Linked DNA regions of Homo sapiens. The protein of the gene in region 1 purifies or fractionates together with the protein of each later gene. This does not show direct contact. Each region holds a gene or a part of one and is shown in the gene's direction. Other genes may lie near its edges.

The links. Proteins that work in one complex are often made in the same cells at the same time.
Region 2: the proteins of ARMH1 (region 1) and ABAT purify together in Homo sapiens (affinity purification with mass spectrometry; 2 studies listed by BioGRID and IntAct, with this or other methods). This does not show direct contact.

Annotation. Positions count from the first base shown.
Region 1 is NC_000001.11:44,670,503-44,677,735, forward strand, and holds the start of ARMH1 (armadillo-like helical domain containing protein 1), read left to right. Parts: upstream 1-4,211; 5' UTR 4,212-4,371; intron 4,372-7,233. Other genes in the region: TMEM53 (transmembrane protein 53), read right to left, coding at 3,829-3,889.
Region 2 is NC_000016.10:8,768,609-8,775,634, forward strand, and holds part of ABAT (4-aminobutyrate aminotransferase, mitochondrial isoform 1 precursor), read left to right. Parts: intron 1-216; coding exon 217-365; intron 366-4,171; coding exon 4,172-4,309; intron 4,310-6,281; coding exon 6,282-6,449; intron 6,450-7,026. UniProt on the Homo sapiens protein: Catalyzes the conversion of gamma-aminobutyrate and L-beta-aminoisobutyrate to succinate semialdehyde and methylmalonate semialdehyde, respectively. Can also convert delta-aminovalerate and beta-alanine.

The DNA of each region.
Region 1 (7,233 bases):
TGTCAGCCCTCCTGAAGCTTCAGGTCCAGCTTGGGCTGCTCTACTCTAGGAAGCCTCTCCCACCACAGGGCCCACCATGGTGGTCCAGACCCTTCAGCACTGTCTCCTGGGTGTCCGAGACAACTTCCTGAGGGTTAAAATGATGTCTATATTTCTTTGACCTCAGCCAGTGATGAGCAAAAAAGGCATGCGGTAAAACCTGGGGAGCAAAAACCCCCTCACTTCCCCTCTCTGTGATCCCCTTAAGACCTTCTGTTTACTTTAAGAGCAAAATGTTTGTCCCATGACCAGGCCCCAGACTCATTAATTCTATGAATGAATTTTTCTTTATGTTTACTGAACATGAGAGCCACACGGTGCCTTTAAGAAGGTTGCTGGCCTATGAGCAAGTCACAGAGGGGATCTAGGTGGGACTTGGCTGACCATTCTCTGGATGGGAGGAGGGGTGGCACGGCCTGGGCCTGGGATGTCAGAGCAGCTCTGGCTTGGGCCTACAGTGCTGCCAAGTGATTCCATTCAGCTCACTTGGTACATCATCCCTCCCAGGCCCTGGTGACAGTGAGTGAAGCCATCAAAAACACGACAACAGGAAAATATAGTGCTTATGGGAGCCCCAGGAGAGACCCTTCCCAAATGAAATGAAGTAAGAGAGGGTATTGAGAGACTGAGGGGATCACTGGCCTGGGAAAAAGAGAGGGAGGAGGGAAGACAGATTCTGGGTCAAACGACCGGCTTTAGCAAAGGCCTGGGCAGACGACCATCGGTGTGGGCAGCCAATAGGTACTGGCTGGTAGGATTCCCAGCAGAAGGATGTTGGGCTGCCAAGCCTGACCTACAAGGCCCAGGGCTCTGAATGACCCCAGATCTGCAGCTGCCTTCCAGCTAGCTAATGTGCCAGCATCAGCTTCTCTGTCAGCTCACAGCAGTGATGGGCTCTGTGGTTTCGATTTTTCAAATACAGGGGAAAAGTAATTTCAGGCCAGGTGCAGTGGCTCATACCTGTAATCGCAGCACTTTGGGAGGCTGCGATAGGAGGACTGCTTGAGCCCAGAAGTTTCAAACCAGTCTGGGCAATACAGTAAGACTCTGTCTCCATATAAGAAAATGAAAATTTTTTAAACTGAAAAAAAAAAGTGTTTTTAAAGGCTGGGCACAGTGGCTCACGCCTGTAATCCCAGCACTTTGGGAGGCTGAGGCGGGTGGATCACCTGAGGTCAGGAGTTCAAGACCAGCCTAACCAATATGGTGAAACCTTGTCTCTACTAAAACTACAAAAATTAGCCAGGCATGGTGGCGGGTGCCTGTAGTCCCAGCTACTTGGGAGGCTGAAACAGGAGAATTGCTTGAAGCCAGGAGGCGGAGGTTGCAGTGAACTGAGATCGTGCCACTGCACTCCAGCCTGGGCGACAGAGTTAGACTCCACCTCAAAAAAAAAAGTTTTTAAAAAGTAATTTCAGAAACTAAATATGAATGTCCTATACACTTCTCCACCATTAAACAGTAATTGCAAAAGACAGACAATCTCTGGGGCTCCAAAAGACTGTCACTCTATCAGGCCATGTTGGCCTGGAGGGAAGCTCTGCAGATAGGAAGCAAATGGATTCAGGGGACCACAGCGTCGTGATCTCCTTCTGAGGGGTTTGACAACCTCTAGCTCTCCTCTGGAGCATGGACTGTGAGAGGGAAGGGCAATGAATTAAAGCCAGTCAGGAGCAGCAATAAGGAGGAGAAACAACTGAAAGCCGTGGAGGTGTTTCCCTTGGAGGAAATGTGAAGGCACGAAGCTGTCCTCTTGAACAGAGGAAGAGAGATTCCTTGCTCTGTATCGTTCCCACCACAATGCTCTAGCCCTGCAGTTAGCACACCATTTTGAAACCACCTGCTTATAAATTCACTCCCCTCCCCAAAACCTCAGCTCCTTGGGCGTGTGAGTCACTTCTGAGTGGCCAACAACGATCCCACAGCCAGGACACAGCAAATACTGAACTGAGAGCGGAAATTACAGGAAGGCCTATTGTGGCTCAAGAAAGGGAAGTGCTTTCTAACAATCCCAGCTGCCTCCAACAGGCTAGAATGTTTGGGCAGAAGCATCGCCCCAGGGAAGGGTCTGCTAGCAATGGAATGCACTCATGCCAACAGAGGGAGGCAGGACAAAACAGTCTCTGAGATTTCTTCCAATTCTAAGACCCAGCCTCCTGGAGCAGCAAAGGGAGCCATGGGATCCGCCACTGCACTCCGGCCTGGGCGACAGGGGAGACTCCATCTCTTAAAAAAAAAAAAAGAAAGGGGGGCTGAGGGGGAACCACAGGGGAGCAATGCAATGGCAGCACCTGCACTGTGCCAGGGACACACATCCAAACGCTACCTCGTAACCCTCGCAATCCCACGAGGAGGTAGGCACTAGTACTCTTCCCATTTCACAGTGGAGGAATCTCAGGCTCAGGGAGGTTCAATAGCTTGCCAAAGACATATAACTTGTAAGACATGGAGCTGAAATGTGAACCAGGACCACGAGGCTGCCCTCCTGGCCGTGCAGAAGGCAGCTCCAACCCTTTGCAGCCGAAGACTCTCCAAAGGAAATAATATTAACTGACTTCATGGCTTGCTGACGCCAAAACGTGTCCAAAGTATTTTTACATCTATAAACCCAAAAGCGCTAAGCCAGCAGATCCAGTTCTAGGGAAAAACAGCTGGTCTGGGGCCATCTGTTCTGCGGGAGTCTAAGGGCTGCCCTCTCCTAGACTCCAACCAAAGAACATGAGATGCTACGGGAGGGATCTGGGAAGGCTCTCCTTAAGGAGGTAAGTTTTATGGAGAGCAGAGTATAAGATCAAACCTTTGCATTAGAAAGATCACTGTGGTAGCAGTTTAAGAGGCTGGGCTGCAGGCAGTGAGACAGGAGGCGTGAAGGCGATGCTGGACTAATGCAAGTGAGGGACACGCTGGCCTCAGGCTGATCATACTTCAAGGCCCTTCTGCCAGAATTCCCAGAGAGACCAAACTTTCCACTCTCTGGACCCCGATCTACTCACACTGTCATGGATGCGGGCCTGCTGTCAATCCTAATTTTGTGGAGAATCCTACATGTCTTTCTTTAATGTAAGGAGAGAAACAATGCTGATCGTAAATGCCAATTACTGAACTCACTCCATGCCAGGCCCTTTACACAATCTCCAGATGGCCCCAACAGCCCTATGAGGAAGGTTACTATCCTTATCCCGGTTTTGCAGAGGAGGAAACTGAAGTTCAGAGAAGGTAGCTTACCAAAGGTAATCCAGCTCCTAAAGGAAGGAGTCAGGATTTCAGTCGAGTTCTACCCGACGGCAGAGACTGCACTGTTAACCACTGCCGAGAAGAGTGGAGAGGGACGGCTAAGGGTTCTGAGTCCCGGGCTTCTGCGAGGATCGGTGACCCCGCGAGCCTCCCCCTCCACGCCTTCGGGAAAATAATAAGTGATAGGCTAGATGTGGGAAGCCCAATCCCAAACAAAGGAATCAGGAGGGATCCAGCTTTCGGCAGCCTTCAGCTATGAGAAGTGATTAAAGGGCATGGACCTGAGCACCCCGGACAGGAAAGACAGAAAAAGAGGTCCCAAGCGAGCAGCTGACTCGGGCAGAGGCGGGGCTCGCCAGGGAGGAACACTCTGGGGCGGGACTTACGAGGGGCGGGGCTCTCTGAGCCTCTCTAAGTCTAGGACCTGCCAGACCCTATGAGGGGGCGGCCCGAGGGAGGGCGGGGCCGCATGAGGGGCGGGGCTACAGCTGCGCTCGCAACCCACAGGTTCATGAGGTCACCTCCCCGCGCCTGGACCCAACCCTCATTCCATACTCTGGCTCCAGCAGGGCTGATCCGGGATCTCGATGGTGTAGTCCAGCTCTGCCGAGGCCATGGTGAAGGCGCCGGCCCAGAGCACGGGTCTCCAGCCGGAACTCCCGCTTGCGCACCCGTGCCTCACCCGGGCGCCTCCTGGGCGCCGCCCAATCACCACACACCTCCCCCAACACGGCCCAATCCCTGCGCCGCGCTCTGTGACCTCCCGCCTTAGCAACCACCGAGTCTCTTCCAGAGCCTCTCGCCTCACCCCACTAGCTCGGCCCTAGCAACCATGCCCCGCCCCTATTACTGACCCGCAGCCATTGGCTAATTCGCTTGATCTGGATCAGGTATTGGTCAGCCGGGGCGCCGGTCAGGAAGAGTCCCCACCCTCTCATGTAGGTGAGAGGCGGCTGAAGAGTTGCTGTATTCTGGGAATGGGCAGGGTCACTCGTCCGAACAGAGTCCTATCCTACGCGGCGGAAGAGTGTGCCCTTTGACTTGCATCGTCTACCTACCTCTGCCATCCTCTACCAGCCGCAACTGCGAGGGCTGGAGGTATAAAACCGTACAAAACGGCCTAGGGGGCGCGTGCCGACCCAACCTCCACCCAGTGGGGTTGAGGCATATTCTGGATGGATGGATGGATGGATGGATGGATGGGTGGATGGGAAGCAGTCTTCAGTTGATGACTTTAGAGAATGCCCTGTTGATAGGGCCCACCGAGGAGCTGGGAGTGCAACTTTCTTGCATTTATCTATATTTACATACTATGTGCCAGCATATTTACATACTATGTGCCAGAGACTGGGTGGGCTAAATAAGGTTCCTTAGGCCCTAGTGAGAATCAAGCTTTTGGCCCTCCCTCTCCCATGTCTTAACGGGAGAGGGAGAGAAACCATGCATGAAGCAACTCTGATTCTGCGTGTGAGATAAATACTACAGAAGAGTAAGGATTTGAGGAGCTCAGAATCAGAGAAGGGGCATTTATGGCAGTGGGGTTGGCTCTTGAGCTGGGCCTTGAAAGACTTTTAGAGATAGGGAGGGGGAAAGACTCTTTGCATGCCAGGCGCGGTGGCTCAAACTCGTAATCCCAGCACTTTGGAAGGCCAAGACGGGAGAATGGCTTGAAGGAGTTCAAGACCAGCCTGGGCAACATAGTGAGACCTTCATCTCTACAAAATTAAAATTTTAAAAATTAGCCAGGCATGGTAGCGCATGCCTGAAGTCCCAGCTACTTGGAAAGCTGAGGTGGGAGGATCACTTGAGTCAGGAGGTCAAAGCTGCAGTAAGCCATGATTGTGCCACTGCACTCCAGCCTGGGTGACAGAGTGAGACCCTGTCTCAAAAAACAAAACAAAGAGCCCAGTGTGGTGTCTCACCCCTGTAATCCCAGCACTTTGGGAGGCTGAGGCGGGCGTATCACTTCAGGTCAGGAGTTCGAGACCAGCCTGGCCAACATGGCGAAACCCCATCTCTACTAAAAATACAAAAATTAGCCGGGCATGGTGGTGCACACCTGTAATCCCAGCTACTTGGGAGGCTGAGGCAGGAGAATGGCTTGAACCTGGGAGGTAGAGGTGGCAGTGAGCCGAGATTGCTCCACTGCACTCCAGCCTGGGTGACAGAGCGCGACTCTGTCTCAAAAAAAAAGAAACATTAGTGCAGGAACTGGATTGAGGATTGGGAGAAGGAGGGAGACCAGTTAGGAGGTTGTTTCAGTAGTGGGGAAGGATTATGGTGGCACAAAGCATGGAGTGGCAGCTGAAATGGAAAGGGCAGGATGAATTCCTTAGACACTTATAGCTAGAAAAAAATGGACTTGGTTACTAATTGGGTGTGGGGGAAGTAAGGGAAATGAAGGATGACTTCTAGATTCCTGGTTTGGGCAAACAGGAAGGAGAGGAAGCAGGGGTTTTTAGGAGAGGGTCAGTTCTGGGCACGGTGAGCTTGGGGTGCCAATGGAACATCCAAGTGGAGGTATCCAGAAGGCCATTGGATATGCCTAACTGGAGTTCGCCAGATAAGTCTAACTGGAAGTTGCAGTGTGGGAGTCTATGGGGCCTTATAGATGCCAGCCACACCAATAGATTTGTTGAGCTTGCCCAGGGAGTAAGTGTAGAGTCAGAAGAGACCTAGGACAGAGCCCTGAGAAACACCCAAGTTTGAGGGTCTGGCAAAGGAGGACGAACCTGCAAAGGTAATCAAGATGAAGTGTCCAAAATGGTAAGAAGATCAGTAGTAGTATGTGGTGTTTCAGAAGCCAAGGAAGGAAAGTGTTGAAGGCTTATGACTAATCAAGTAAAATAAGGCCTGAAAGAATCCACTGGATTTAGAAACAAGGAAGTTGTTGGTGACCTTTACAAGTGCAGTTTCAGTGGAGTGATGGGAGCAGAGGTCAAATTACAGTGGTTTGAGAAGCAGATGGGATTGAGGAAGTGAAGATTCATGTAAGATACATTTTCAGAAAGCTTGGCTATTTAGGAGAAGAAAAAAGAAGGCAATATCCAGCAGGAAACACAGGTTTTTATTCGGATGGAAGAAATGTTGATGTGGATCCAGCAAAGGGGAAAAAGATAAAACTATAAGGGAAAGAAGATAACTGAGAATGGTGCCCTTGAAAAAAAGACTTCACCAAAGTGTTGGTGAAGAAATTCACTTAGAAGGGTGGAGGAACATTTGTTTTGTGGCAGAAGGGAAGCATTACGTTGAGGTTAATTGGTGGGTTTGGTGACAGGAAGCTGAGGGAATTCTTCGATGGTTTCCATTTTCTCTGTCAAATAAGAACATTATATCAGCCAGTGAGAGTGGGATTGGAGATGGTGTGCGAGATTGAAAAGAGCAGAGAAAGATTAAAATAGCAGCACTGGAGAGTGGCAGTGAGATGACTAAGGTAGCAAACAGATTTCTGGGCAGTTATCATGGCCCTGTCGAGGTTAGTGACCATTAATTTTCGGAAGCAGCAGTCTGCAAGGTTGTGTAATATGCATTTTTCCCTCAACAACATTCAGCCACCTAGTGGTGGGTACACAGAGGTTAGTTTAATTGATCTAGGTTTGGGTTTTACCAGGCGGATACAATGGAAGGACAAAGGACAAGGAAGTTGAAGATTGTGGCAAAACAGTGATTGAAATGAAGGGCCTTAGTATCTAAACTGGATAGGAGAGTGAAAAAAAATGTATGGACTAGAGGTCCCAGTGAAGTCAGAGAATCCACATCTGAGATCATTGAATGAGGGAGTTGTGATCAGAAAGTGGAAGAATGAAGTTTGAGTAGTTTCCGGTGATGACAAGGTCCACTGTGTGGCCGTGGGAGTCAGTGACCAAAGTGGAGTACAGGAGACAGTCAGGATGCTGATGTGGCCACTGAACTCCCCCTGGATGATAGAAAGACTTGAGGGGAGGGAAGGGAAGAGGATGC
Region 2 (7,026 bases), on another chromosome or scaffold:
GTATCAAAACATCTCATGTACTCCCCAAGTATATACACCTCCTATGCACCCAGAAAAATTAAAAATTAAACGATAAAAAGAACTGGGGTTTCACAGGCAACAGGCCTCCCTGCCCACTGACAGCCTTGCGCTGAAATGTCTATCATCTCCTTTACAAAGACGGTACTGCCTGCTTCCCCAAGCCAAGCGTCTGCTTTTCTGTTTTGCTGAACTCAGGTTGCTTAGCGACCACGCACTCTAAAGCCATTCACAAGATCGACATCCCTTCCTTTGACTGGCCCATCGCACCGTTCCCACGGCTGAAATACCCTCTGGAAGAGTTTGTGAAAGAGAACCAACAGGAGGAGGCCCGCTGTCTGGAAGAGGTAATGCTCATACCCTGCGGATCCTCCCCAACCACCAGTCCTGTTGCTCTTGCCGCCCCAAGACTTGGGGAGAAGAGAAACAGATGAAGGGTTTATCTGGGGATCTGTGCAGTGCTCCCCCAGAGGGAAGCAGGGACACAGAGGCCTTGCGTCCCAAATGTTCTATGTTGGGAGAGTTCGTGAGACACACTGTTTCTGTCACAGCATCCATCACCCAACTCTGATACCAATTTCTGTATCACTTAAGTTTCTTGGAAGACAAGAGTCAATGACTCTAAAATAAGAGAAAACAGATCAGTTGAAAGAATATGGGGCTGGGCACGGTGGCTCCGCCTGTAATCCCAGCACTTTGGGAGGCTGAGACGGGAGGATCACCTGAGGCCAGGAGTTCGAGACCAGCCTGGCCAACATGGTGAAACCCCATCTCTACTAAAAATTAGCTGGGTGTGGTGGCACATGCCTGTAATCCCAGCTACTAGGGAGGCTGAGGCACAAGAATCCCTTGGACCCGGGAGGCAGAGGTTGCAATGAGCCAAGATTGCACCACTGCACTCCAGCCTGGGTAACGGAGTGAGACTCTGTCCAAAAAAAAAAAAAAAAAAAAAAGAGAGAGAGAGAAAGAAAGAATATGGGATATCCCACAGGAAAAAATGGTTCCACAAGATCCTCTAAACCACTGGTTTTGTCTTCTCCTGAGTCTTGGGGCTTTGAGTTGCTGTGGGTCGGGGGATGCTATGGGAGAGGCTGAGGACAGGCAGCACCCCCCTACCCCCCGTTTCCACGTCATCTAACACAGCCCTCTTTAGATCCACTCAGTATATGGGGGTTCCAGGGAAGACATTGGAAGTAATCTGCAGCTGGAAAAAAATATCACTGTTTGGGTATAGATTTGAACTCAAATAAGGCTGCTGGTTTTTTTCTTAGGCACATCATCATTTTCAATCAGTTCATATTTATTGAGCACCTACTAGATGTCAAGCAAGGTGCTAGGTGCTGGGTATTCAGTGGTAAATAGAAAAGACAAGATAATGGCATCAAGTACAGCACTGTCCAATAGAAATATAATGCAAGCCACATATGTAATTATAGCTTTTCCAGTAGTCACCTTTTCTTTCATTTTTACACCCTGCCTGGAAACTGCCAAGGAGTCACATTTGCTTTGTTTTGTTTTGCTTTGTTTTTGAGATGGAGTCTAGCTCTGTTGCCCAGGCTGGAGTGCAGTGGCGCGATCTCAGCTCACTGCAAGCTCCGCCTCCTGGGTTCATGCCATTTTCCTGCCTCAGCTTCCTGAGTAGCTGGGACTACAGGCGCTTGACACCACACCCGGCTAATTTTTTGTATTTTTAATAGAGACAGGGTTTCACCGTGTTAGCCAGGATGGTCTCGATCTCCTGACCTTGTGATCCGCCCGCCTCGGCCTCCCAAAGTGCTGGGATTACAGGTGTGAGCCACCGCGCCGGCCTTCTTTTCTTTTGTTTTGTTTGAGACAGGGTCTCACTCTGTCACCCAGGCTGGAGTGCAGTGGTGCAATCACAGCTCACTGCAGTCTCGACCTCTCTGGGCTCAGGTGATCCTCCCACCTCAGCTTCTTGAGTAGTTGGAACTAAGGCACATGACACCACCACACCTGGCTAATTTTTGTATTTTTTGCAGAAACAGGTTTTGCCGTGTTGCCCAGGTTGGTCTCAAACTCCTGGGCCCAAGTGGTCTGCCCACTTCGGCTTCCCAAATTGCTGGGATTACAGGTGTGAGCCACCGTGCGTGGCCAGGAGTCACGTTTTTTAAAATTACAAAGAAATAGGTGAAATTCATTTTCAGAGCATTTTATTGAACCGAATATATTCAAAATATTATCACGTAAATGTGTAATTAGTATTTTTAAACAATGTGATTTTTATATTCCTTTTTAAAAATTCCTTTATTTTAAAAATTCATTTATTTAGGTCTAAACAAACTAAGATAGTCCTTTTCTTCGTATTCAGTTTTTGAAACACTGTGTGTATTTTACACTTACAGCACAATGCTCTAAAAACAAAGAAAAACCGGGCGCGGTGGCTCATGCCTGTAACTGCGACACTTTGGGAGGTTGAGGCGGGCAGATCACCTGAGGTCAGGAGTTCAAGAGCAGCCTGACTAACATGGAGAAACCCCATCTCTACTAAAAATACAAAATTAGCCGGGCATGGTGGTGCATGCCTGTAATCCCAGCTACTCCAGAGGCCGAAGCAGGAGAATCACTTGAACCCGGGAGGTGGTGGTTGCGGTGAGCTGAGATTGCGCTATTGCACTCCAGCCTGGGCAACAAGAGTAAAACTCCATCTCAAAAAAAAAAAAAAGAAAACCAAGAAAAGTATCTCAGAGCTTCCTTGGGGTGACTGGTGGAGACCAAGGTCAAAATCATATCACCCAAACAGAGGCTTTTTCTTAATTGTACATAATAAAGAAAGCTTTCACTTGTTAGTCTATCTAGGTGTACGGTTTAGGGTTTTTCTTTCTTTTTTTTTTTTTTTTGAGACAGAGTTTCACTCTCTTGCCCAGGCTGGGGTGCAGTGGCACGATATCTCGGCTCATTGCAACTTCTACCTCCTGGGTTCAAGCGATTCTCGTGCCTCAGCCACTGGAGTAGCTGGGAGTACAGGCGTGAGCCACCATGCCCAACTAATTTTTGTATTTTTAGTAGAGATGGGGTTTCACCATGGTAGCCAGGCTGGTCTGGAACTCCTGACCTCAGGTGATCTGCTCGCCTTAGCCTCCCAAAGTGCTAGGATTACAGGTGTGAGCCACCATGCCCAGCCTCTTTCTTTTTAACAAAGACAGGATCTTGCTGTGTTGCACAGGCTGGAGTGCAGTGGTGTGGTCATAGCTCACTGCGATCTCACAGTCCTGGTTCAAGGGGTCCTCCCACCTCAGCCTCTCAAGTAGCTGAGACTACAGGCACGCAGCCACCATGCCCAGCTAATTTCTAAATGTTTTGCAGACATGAACCGCGCTATGTTGCACAGGCTGGTCTCAAACTCCTGGCCTCAAGGTATCCTCCTGCCTCAGCCACCCAAAGTGCTGGGATTGCAGGTGTGAGCCACCACACCTGGCCCTTAGAACAGTTTTTTAACCGAGGATATATCTCCGATTCTGCCCCAAAAGGATTCTCACACCAATCATAGCAATAATACTGTAAGAATAGGAACAATAATAATCAATAATAATATAGTCGTGCTAATCGTAATAGTAGCAGCCACCACTTTATGTGTGCCAGACTCTGCTGTATTTTCTCTCTGTCTCTGTGTGTGTGTGTGTGTGTGTGTGTGTGTGTGTGTGTGTGTGTGTGTGTGTGAATGCTCTCACCTTTATTTCTCTCAATATACCCGTGATGTAGCTATTTCCCACATAACAAGGTTAAGTGACAGGTGCATGTTCCATGTAAAACAGAGGCAGAACCACAGCTAAAACATCTGGCCCAGCAATCAACTCATAGTGCTATATTTTCTCATTCAGTCCTCTCCACGACCCTGGAAGGTGGATTCTGTCAGTGTGCCCATACAACACATCAGGAAAGTGAGGCTTCTGAAGCTAAATTACTTGCCCCAATTTATTAGTTTGTATCCACCCAGGTGCTAGCACCGATTTCAAGTAGGATACATTCCCATCCACACACATAGCTTCTAACAGAGGCTTCACTGGTCTTAGGAAATGCACACAAACACATTTCCAATAAAATTGCATGGGGCTCATCGAACCCCAGATTCCCACCCACGGATACTGGTCACAAGCCTCTGCCATCGGTGGTCACTTTCCCCTTTGGGATCCAGGTGGAGGATCTGATTGTGAAATATCGGAAAAAGAAGAAGACGGTGGCCGGGATCATCGTGGAGCCCATCCAGTCCGAGGGTGGAGACAACCACGCATCCGATGACTTCTTTCGGAAGCTGAGAGACATCGCCAGGAAGGTCAGTGGACAGGGCCGAGGTTGGATGGAGCCATTGGGTTTTCTGGGTTGAGTTCCCCGAGTAACGGGCCAGCAGCACCTCTGCCTTGGAGCTTCTGTCAATCTCCAGACTTGCAGAGGCTGTCTGTCAGCATCAGGGGTGGAGAAGTTGGGGTTGGTGAAAGAATGGGGATTCTTCCCTAAAACTATACACACACACACACACACACACACACACACACACACACACACATATATATATATTTTTTTTTTTGAGACAGAGTCTCACTCTGTTACCCAGGCTGGAGTGCAGTGGTGCAATCTCAGCTCACTGCAACCCCTACCTCCCAGGTTCAAGTGATTCTCCTACCTCAGCCTCCCGAGTAGCTGGGACTACAGGCACACGTCACCATACCCAACTAATTTTTGTATTTCTAACAGAGACGAGATTTCGCCATGTTGGCCAGGCTGGTCTTGAACTCCTGACCTCAGGTGATCTGCACACCTCAGCCTCCCAAAGTGCTGGGATTACAGGCCTGAGCCACCACACTTGGCCTTAAAATCTTTTTAAAAAACCTTTTTGGATACATAATAGTTGCAGTGCGTAATGATCAAATCTGGGTAATTGGATATCCATCACCTAAAATATTTATCATCTCTTTGTATTGGGAATATTCCAAATCCACTCCTATTTTGAACTATGCAATAAATTATTAACTAAAATCACCCTATTGTGCTACTGGACACTAGATCTTATTCTTCTATCTAACTGTACTTTTGTATCCATTAACCAACCCCTATTTATCTCCACCTCCCCATTAGCCTTGCCAGCCTCTGATAGGCGTCATTCGACTCTATTTCTTCATAAGGGAAGTGTTTTTAGTTCCCACCTGAGTGAGAACATGCAATATTTGTGTATGTGTGGCTTATGTCACTTAACATAATGTCCTGTAGTTCCATCCACGTCATTGCTAATGACATAATTTCATTCTTTTTATGGCTGAATAGTATTTCTTTGTGTATATGTACCATATTTTCTTTTTCTTTTTTTTTGAGACAGTCTCACTCTGTTGCCCAGGCTGGAGTGCAGTGGCACGATCTTGGCTCACTGTAACCTCTGCCTCCTGGGTCCAAGTGATTCTCCTGCCTCAGTCTCCCAAGTAGCTGAGATTACAGGTGCACGACACCATGCCCAGCTAATTTTTGTATTTTCAGTAGAGACGGGGTTTCGCCATGTTGGCCAGGCTGATTGGCTCAGACTCCTGGCCTTGGGTGATTTGCCCGCCTCAGCCTCCCAAAGTGCTGGAATTACAGGTGAGAGCCACCGCGCCTTGCCGAGTGTGTATATGTACCATATTTACTTTATCCATTCATCCATCGATGGACAGATTGATTCTGTATCTCGGCTATTGTGAACAGTGCTGCAATAAACATGGGAGTGCAGGTATCTCTTTGACACACTGATTTGCTTTCTTTATATTGTGTGTTTGTTTTAATGTCTTGTGCATATATAACTGGCAATCAAACCGATAAGTTCACAGATAAAAGTTATAAGACGTGAGTTGACTTAACACAGATGCTGAGTTAGAAATAGCCTTGGTGACAAGCAGAACATGGCAGCTGAAGTTTGAGAAGCACATTCGAGGCCTCACTGTTGGACACAGCTCCCTCTGACGAGGTCGAGACCCGAGACTGAAGCCAGATGACATACCGCTCTGTGTTGGTGCAGGGAGTATTTAATGTTCTGGGTTTTTTTGGTCCAGCTTAGCAGTTTTAGGAAACACTCAGATTCAGCTCTGGTTGGAACTGCTCAGCTTAAGTGTTTTGATTAGTTTTTTTTGTGCACAGCTCAAGAACATGGGGCTGGTTTGCTCTTCAGAAAACAAGCACGATGTGTGTGGACCCAGGGTTTGGCAGTTAGCTGGCTATGGAGGGCATGAATTTCTGGCCTCCCACGGGTGTTTATTTCTCCCTCCTCTCTCTTCTCCGGCCAGCATGGCTGCGCCTTCTTGGTGGACGAGGTCCAGACCGGAGGAGGCTGCACGGGCAAGTTCTGGGCCCATGAGCACTGGGGCCTGGATGACCCAGCAGACGTGATGACCTTCAGCAAGAAGATGATGACTGGGGGCTTCTTCCACAAGGAGGAGTTCAGGCCTAATGCTGTGAGTTGGAGCCAACCTTCTCTCTACATCCAGGGCAGAGAAGGGAGCATCCTCTTCTCCTAACTGTTCCTTTCTCACCATCGAGGAGCTGGGTGGGCACTTACTGGGTCGCAGGTTTTCTAAGTCCCAGTTCTTATCAATGCAATTAGCAGTGGTGTGCCCTCCCAGCTCTCTCTGTAAGGCCAACTCTGGAACAGTCCACCATCAGCCTTTTCCTGTTTTCTCTCTGTGTGCACACACAATAATATCATCGACAGCTGCCGCAGCAGACTGAGCATTTGCTATGTGCCTAGTTCTAAGTATTTCTCATATACTTTTAATCCTGAGAACAATCTAACCAAGTAGCTGTTATTTTTATCCTCATTTGACTAATGAGGAATCAGGCACAGAGAGGTTAAGTAATTTGTCAAAGGTCACACAGCCTGTTAAGTGACAAAGCCAGGATTCCAACCCAGAGCCCATACTCTTACCCACTACACTGTGTACTGCCATGTGTGCATACAGATTTACACACACACACACACACAGCCATCAGGGGCCAACGTCCTTTCACCATTCCTACATGTAGTTTCTACCC